2 linked regions of the Homo sapiens genome follow. The protein of the gene in region 2 interacts with the protein of the main gene of each other region in a biochemical or structural test. Each region holds a gene or a part of one and is shown on either strand. Other genes may lie near its edges. The genes, in order: SSTR3 and SST.

What was found.
Region 1: the proteins of SST (region 2) and SSTR3 interact in a test that uses a peptide from one of them, tested with the Homo sapiens proteins (one study listed by BioGRID).

Annotation. Positions count from the first base shown.
Region 1 is NC_000022.11:37,205,750-37,209,658, reverse strand, and holds part of SSTR3 (somatostatin receptor type 3), read left to right. Parts: intron 1-1,819; 5' UTR 1,820-1,855; coding exon 1,856-3,112; 3' UTR 3,113-3,909.
Region 2 is NC_000003.12:187,668,658-187,672,566, forward strand, and holds SST (somatostatin preproprotein), read right to left. Parts: upstream 1,738-3,909; 5' UTR 1,635-1,737; coding exon 1,497-1,634; intron 621-1,496; coding exon 408-620; 3' UTR 255-407; downstream 1-254.

The sequences.
Region 1 (3,909 bases), on a different chromosome or scaffold from region 2:
ACAGTAGTGCCTCCCTCGTAGGACATCATAGGATACTGCAGCTCACCAGCTTAGCCTGGCACCTGGCACAGTCAGGGCTCAGTGATGAGCAGCTGGCAGCACTGTTAGGATCCTCTAGCCCACTGTCCAGGTGCCCCTCCCTTAGTGCTGCTGTCCCAGGCTCAGGAGACCTGATGAAGGGTTGGGGAGAAGGATGGGTTGAGGACAGGTTAGGGGATGACCCAGGCTCAGAATCCTTCTCTTCTCCCAGCCCCAAGAACAGGGAGGAGATGCTCTGAACCCAGCCAGCTGGAGAAGCCACGGCCTAGGGGTTCCTTGCTACCCTTGGCTTCACCCAGCCTGGCACTCTGAGCCCGCTGCAGCCCCAGGTCCTTGGGGCAGGGGTAGCCAGGCGTGCTCAGAGGCGTTTGTTTGGATTTGGGGTGCCTTCCCTTCCCAGGAGCTTTGCACATCAACAGTGACATCCATATAGGGCAGTGCGGACCACAGCTCCCATTGGAGGGAGGAAGTGCAGGCCCAGTGTCAGGGATATTAGAAGAAGGGCTTCTCCTCTGAGAGATTTATCTTCCCTTCAGGGTTTTCTGCAGGGAGAATCCAAGGACAGCCAGGAGCCAGGGGATTGGGGGATCATTAGGAAGAGGGGGTGCAGTGGGTGGTCCAGACCCCAGAGGAGGCTCCTGCATCCAGCCTGGCTCTGCCTGGGCCTCCTCCTGAGCGTGGCTTTCCTCAGTGGGGCCTGACATTCCCCCTTGGCACTGGGCTTGGTCCACTGAAGGCTTCTCTGGTTCATTTGATGCCTGACACTGAGGCAGAGCTCGTGCCTGTGCGGAAGTGATGGGGCAGAAAGCAATGGGGAGGGTCCAAAGCTGGCTGGAGACTCCACAGGGGAGGGGATCAGAGTCTCGCAGGGGAGCCCAGAGGAGCCCCAGCTTCTTCTGCGCAGGCATGGGATGAGAAAGACACTAAGAAAGCACCTGGAGTGCGGGGGGGCTCTTGCTTATGCTGCAAATCCCTTCTGAAAATGTCCCCTTTTCCAGGCAGCTGGCCCCTCCAGCCAGGGGGAGGGACTACTCTTGGATAGCATCTGCTAAGTGAATTGTAAAGTTCTCCAACCCCAGCCGGCCTCTGGGGAGAAGGGGCCTCAGCCACCTGCCCCCCAGGTTCACAGCCAACCTTCCTGGGCAGGGCCTTTGGGAGGGGCACAGTGGGATGGCCCAGGCTGAGGGGGCACCTAAGGACTCTGACTCCCAGGGGAGGGGACACCCCAAGCCTGTGGTTCTTAACTCCATTTGGAACCTGAAGAATCTGATAACAGATCTGACATTAACCTTCACCTGGAGTTTAGGGCGTTCATGGATCCTCTGAAGTTCATCTAGGGAGCAGGTTTCCAGGTGAAGGTCCTGTGATATGAAGCAGTGTTTTTCAGATGTGAGGGCGAGACCTGTTGGTGGCAATGCAACCCACTTCACAGGGCCCTGCCAGCTGGGGCCTCACATGTAGAAAGGAAGGGCAGGTATTTGTTGGTGAAACAGTATGACTTCATGCCACACACCACACCCTCACTCCACGATGGAGAATGATCACCTCACCTCCCTGAGCCTCAGTTTCCTCATCTGAGAAAAGGGGATAACACGACTCAGCCTTGCGGGGCTGTGCGGGGTGAATGAGATGGTGCGTGCTAAGCACCTCCCATCTTCTGAAATCTCTCAGACGATGGGAGGATGGGCGTGCAGCAGGTCCCCAGGTTCGGCATGATGGGAGGGGGCAGCACAGAGAAAGCCATTCTCTGCTGTGACCGAGCTGTTTTTCCTTCCCCCAGGCAAATAGCTGACTGCTGACCACCCTCCCCTCAGCCATGGACATGCTTCATCCATCATCGGTGTCCACGACCTCAGAACCTGAGAATGCCTCCTCGGCCTGGCCCCCAGATGCCACCCTGGGCAACGTGTCGGCGGGCCCAAGCCCGGCAGGGCTGGCCGTCAGTGGCGTTCTGATCCCCCTGGTCTACCTGGTGGTGTGCGTGGTGGGCCTGCTGGGTAACTCGCTGGTCATCTATGTGGTCCTGCGGCACACGGCCAGCCCTTCAGTCACCAACGTCTACATCCTCAACCTGGCGCTGGCCGACGAGCTCTTCATGCTGGGGCTGCCCTTCCTGGCCGCCCAGAACGCCCTGTCCTACTGGCCCTTCGGCTCCCTCATGTGCCGCCTGGTCATGGCGGTGGATGGCATCAACCAGTTCACCAGCATATTCTGCCTGACTGTCATGAGCGTGGACCGCTACCTGGCCGTGGTACATCCCACCCGCTCGGCCCGCTGGCGCACAGCTCCGGTGGCCCGCACGGTCAGCGCGGCTGTGTGGGTGGCCTCAGCCGTGGTGGTGCTGCCCGTGGTGGTCTTCTCGGGAGTGCCCCGCGGCATGAGCACCTGCCACATGCAGTGGCCCGAGCCGGCGGCGGCCTGGCGAGCCGGCTTCATCATCTACACGGCCGCACTGGGCTTCTTCGGGCCGCTGCTGGTCATCTGCCTCTGCTACCTGCTCATCGTGGTGAAGGTGCGCTCAGCTGGGCGCCGGGTGTGGGCACCCTCGTGCCAGCGGCGGCGGCGCTCCGAACGCAGGGTCACGCGCATGGTGGTGGCCGTGGTGGCGCTCTTCGTGCTCTGCTGGATGCCCTTCTACGTGCTCAACATCGTCAACGTGGTGTGCCCACTGCCCGAGGAGCCTGCCTTCTTTGGGCTCTACTTCCTGGTGGTGGCGCTGCCCTATGCCAACAGCTGTGCCAACCCCATCCTTTATGGCTTCCTCTCCTACCGCTTCAAGCAGGGCTTCCGCAGGGTCCTGCTGCGGCCCTCCCGCCGTGTGCGCAGCCAGGAGCCCACTGTGGGGCCCCCGGAGAAGACTGAGGAGGAGGATGAGGAGGAGGAGGATGGGGAGGAGAGCAGGGAGGGGGGCAAGGGGAAGGAGATGAACGGCCGGGTCAGCCAGATCACGCAGCCTGGCACCAGCGGGCAGGAGCGGCCGCCCAGCAGAGTGGCCAGCAAGGAGCAGCAGCTCCTACCCCAAGAGGCTTCCACTGGGGAGAAGTCCAGCACGATGCGCATCAGCTACCTGTAGGGGCCTGGGGAAAGCCAGGATGGCCCGAGGAAGAGGCAGAAGCCGTGGGTGTGCCTAGGGCCTACTTCCCAAGGTGCCACAGGCCCATGATGGGATGTTGAGGGGCCTGGACTTTGATGCTATTGCTGCCAGGTCTTGCTGTGTGACCTTGGGTAGGTTGCTTCTACTCTCTGGGCCTTGTTTTCTCCTCTGTGACTCAGGGATAGGAGTCATCAGCCTGGATGAGCTATGTCAGATGAGAGGTTTGGAGGGCACTGTTGCTGGGCTGACCTGGCTGAGCAGGCAAAAGGTGGGTGCAGACTGGCCTCCCCCCAGGGATGGAGTGTCTTGGGGCATCAACTAGAATCTTGGCCCTCAGAGGGATAAACCAAGGCCAGGATTTCTTGGGCTCAGAGTCAGGAACACAGGAGCTGCTGGGGGCTGGGCTGGAAACCTAAACAGAAGAAAGCCTAACCCGGTGGGAGGAGTGGGGCAGAAATGGTCAGGCCCCAGATCAGCTCCCTCCCCTCGACTGTGAGGCCTTGGACCAGCTCTGCTCCTCTCTAGGCCTCAGGCTTCACCTGGGTAAAACCCAACAACCTCTACACCCTTTTGGCCCAGGCAGTCAATGCTGGAGGTCCTGTGCTCCTGGACGGGAAGAGCAGGTGAATTTCCTGCTCATGGAAGCGAATGAAGTCCAGCTTCAGGGTCTCTCACTGCCTGGGCTTTTGCAAGGCCCTGCATCTACTTTTGTACTTGTCATTTTGTATTCGTTTTCTTAAAGAGGGACCTCGAACTGCATAAGCTTAGGCCACCCA
Region 2 (3,909 bases):
ATGTCAGCCTCTCCCAGTAATTATCATTGAATTAAAGTTTGAATGCATAGAGTTATGTGAAATTATTTCTGTTTAAAATGACTCATGTTATAATAGTTATCATTTAAAATGTAAACTTTATTGCCACCGAGAATTTTAAATAGATGTTTGTGAACATTGGAGTACCTATCTCAAATAACTTTACTGAAACCGCCACTCAAGCTTATTATGTATTATTGAACAAAAAGATTTACTCAATAGAAACCAAATTCACATTTTTCATAATTTCACCATAATTTTATTTTGTATTTACAGTTTTCAGTTTCTAATGCAAGGGTCTCGCTGAAGACTTGGAGGATTAGGGAAGAGAGATGGGGTGTGGGGGCGAGGGATCAGAGGTCTGATATGGACAATACTAGTTAAGAAAGCTAACAGGATGTGAAAGTCTTCCAGAAGAAATTCTTGCAGCCAGCTTTGCGTTCTCGGGGTGCCATAGCCGGGTTTGAGTTAGCAGATCTCTGCAGCTCAAGCCTCATTTCATCCTGCTCAGCAGCCTGGGACAGATCTTCAGGTTCCAGGGCATCATTCTCCGTCTGGTTGGGTTCAGACAGCAGCTCTGCCAAGAAGTACTTGGCCAGTTCCTGTATAGGGCAGAAGGGATAGAAAAAGAGAGAAAGAGAAGTGGGGAGGACAATGGAAAAAATTTGAAAAGCCTAAATTAAAGAACAGATTTGGTCACACACAAAATCCAGTTTTTACAGCTGCGCATTTTTTGTCACATTTAAAATCAATCAAGGATATAAAAATAAGGATAGTTGCTATAATTACCAAGTTACACAAAAAGGCTTTAAGAGCTCAAATGTTTCTGCAACCTTTCTGTCCCTGTAGACTTAACACACACACACACACACACACACGCACAAACACACACACACACACACACACACACATAAAGACCGTTCTGGTAAGATAAAGTGTGTGCCAACAGTTTAATTCAATTTTCACATCACGAGCTACAAAGTAGAATTGTTTTACCATTTTTACCAAGTAAACTGTAGGGGAACGAGACTTCTCACAATCTCAAACATACGGCGTTCGGTCTTTAGATTGCCCCTTTGCCCTAGTCCCGACGTTTGGAAGTGAGGTACGCTAAGAGGTAGCAGCTTCAGAGGTCTGCGTTTCAGCACCTGGGTCAGCGCTTCCCAGGGTCAGCACCAGGGATAGACGCCATTGTCGCTTCGTGCCCAGACAACTACCCAGATTTTGTAATTTTCTTGAATGCCAAGTAAGAACTCACCTGAACTGTGACCGACTGCGCTTATCATGGGGGAAAAAAAGAGTTAGAAGGGGATTCTAGCCTTTGATAGTTTTCTCAAGAGCTTCGGGAGCTGAGGGACCCAGAAAAGCACCAAAACTCTTTAGAAGGACTGAGCATCCCTTACGTCCAAACCAATGGGGCAGGAGCAAGGCTTAGGGAGGGCTGGAGAATCCGGGAGACGTCGAGGGAGTCTCCTTACCTGCTTCCCCGCGGCAGCAGCCAGGGACTTCTGCAGAAACTGACGGAGTCTGGGGTCCGAGGGAGCGCCGGTGACACAGCCCAGGGCCAGGACGATGGACAGCGCAGCCAGCGCGCACTGGAGGCGGCAGGACAGCATCTCGGCGCCGCGAAAGCCGAGCTGGAGAGTGGCTGGTCAAACTCTAGGCGCGGATCAGCAGGCAGCAGCGATGGCTCCGAACCTCGCTCCTAAAGCGGCTTGTGTGCTCTCAACCGTCTCCCTCTGTTTTAAACTCTCTCTCTGACGTCAGGCTAGGAGGCGCCCCCAGATCTCACCAGCCCTTTTACGCACCATTAGCCTCGCAAAATCAATCACAGAAGACAGGGGAGGTGACAAGATCTAAAGTGGCTTACTTAAAAAAAAAAAAATACTGCACACGCACAGGCACACACAATTCCACATGCCCCACGATTTATACAATCTTTTATTTTCACTCAGTGCTATGAGCATACACATTCCACAATTTCACTCCCACACATGCACACTCAATTACACACAAACAGAGGCTCAAACACTCAGCTCTTAAAGAGCAAATACACTATCACCCTTAAATGCACACAAATGTACCCAGACAACTCCATCTGTCATCATACTCTAACATTTTAGGAAGGCCCAACAAGCAACAGGGCATGTGTATGGTAGGTGGAGATCAGAATCATTCCTCTAATAACAGATTTGAGAATGAAATATGGACAGTAGAAGGACTGAGCCCTCTTTATTTCCTCCATTATCTCATAAAAAGCCTTGAAGATGTAACGGGGCTCTAAAAGAACTTCACTTTTCTCTACAATGGGGGAGAAGGTACCTCTGGCTCACCCTCCCTCCCTCTTTCTCAGCAACTGAGACTTCTGATCTACCTGCCTTTCTATTGTGACCATATATATGTATGAGTGTGTGTATATGTACGGGAGGGAAAGAGAGAGAGAGAGATTGAAATGGACTTCATTTTGGTGCTGAGAAATTTAGAGCTGGAAGGCAATCTAAGAAATTATTCAATAAACCTCAGAATTTGAATCAGTAAGGCAGAGTAATGGTCAGTAAATTGTTCTCCTTCACATACTGCACACTTTGAGCAAAACCAGACCTCCACATTCCAAAGCCAGTGTTCCTTCTACTGAGCTCTGAGTTTTCTAACAGATTCCTGGCCGGTAAGCATAGTTTTATGTCAGGAAGCCCCAGTTTAGACATATAAGGTCTAGGAACTCCCAGAACATATGTGACCACTATTGTATATCTATATGTGGAAAGGATCAAAAGATTCTTGGTTAAATTCAGCTCTGCCTGATCTCCTAGAAACAAAGAAAGTTTAAGAAAACCTGTCCTTGAATTCTGATTGAACTCTGGTTAAATGTTTACTGTTCAGGCCAGAGTTCTGACTGCTTTTATCTAAATAGTTCCTTACTGAGGAAGGACCAGCTAATTTCCTAGCATGGACGAGATGATCCCTACAGGATCTTTAAGAGCTGTTATCTTATGAGCTTCAAAAAAGCCAATATTAGCTAAAAAGATATGCTGCATCTCTGGAAACCATGCGAAGCTCATATTAGGTATTAAAATATTCTCAGTACTTAGACCCGAACCACAGTGTTGAGAGGCAGAAGGGTTTGGGAAGTATCCTGAATGGCTTGAATAATTGTCACTATTTCTTTTTGTGCTTGTAATCCAAGGCAAAGCGGAAATGCACAGCAAGAAGTGTTAAAGTTTCCAGGTCTTGACAAGGCCAGCCAAGACTAAGCACAAAGTGGGGCATTAAAAAGTCATTCACATGTGTTGGAGTAGTCTAAGAGATCAATGAATCTGGAGCTGTGGAACCCAGTCCTAGGAAATACATGTTATATTCTCTAAATCTTGCAACTCTCTCTGGCCTCTAAGGACTCAGAGTTTAGTTCTATCACTGTGACTGTCTCTAGGTACCTCCAAATGATCTCATATCTCCTGTACCCAGGATGTGGTCTTTGGCATACCCACTGAGTAGGAAACGAGGATTTTTCCAAAGCAGGAGCCAGCCGAAGAACAAATAGCAGCTCCCCATCTTCCCCTGTGCTCTAGGATCTCTTCTGTCTCCTTCCCCAGACGCTTGCTCCCCTCCTTCCACATCCTTGTGCTCTCCCTCTACACTTTCTCCTCCTTCTTATTCCTCCTTTTCCTTAACCTTTCTGCAAATTTATGTTTCAGAATTTTCCTCACTCAATCCTTCTTTTGTCTCCTCTCTTGACTCTGTATCCTCATTCCTTTGTTTTTCTTGCTCTTCTCAATCATTTTCTGACTTTGGTTTGGGTCAGCCCGGCTCTTTCCCTGCCTTCTCACCCTGCTTAGCCAGTGCCTATCCCAGTCTCTGCCTCAAGACATCTCTCCCTCTCTTTTCTCTCCTCTT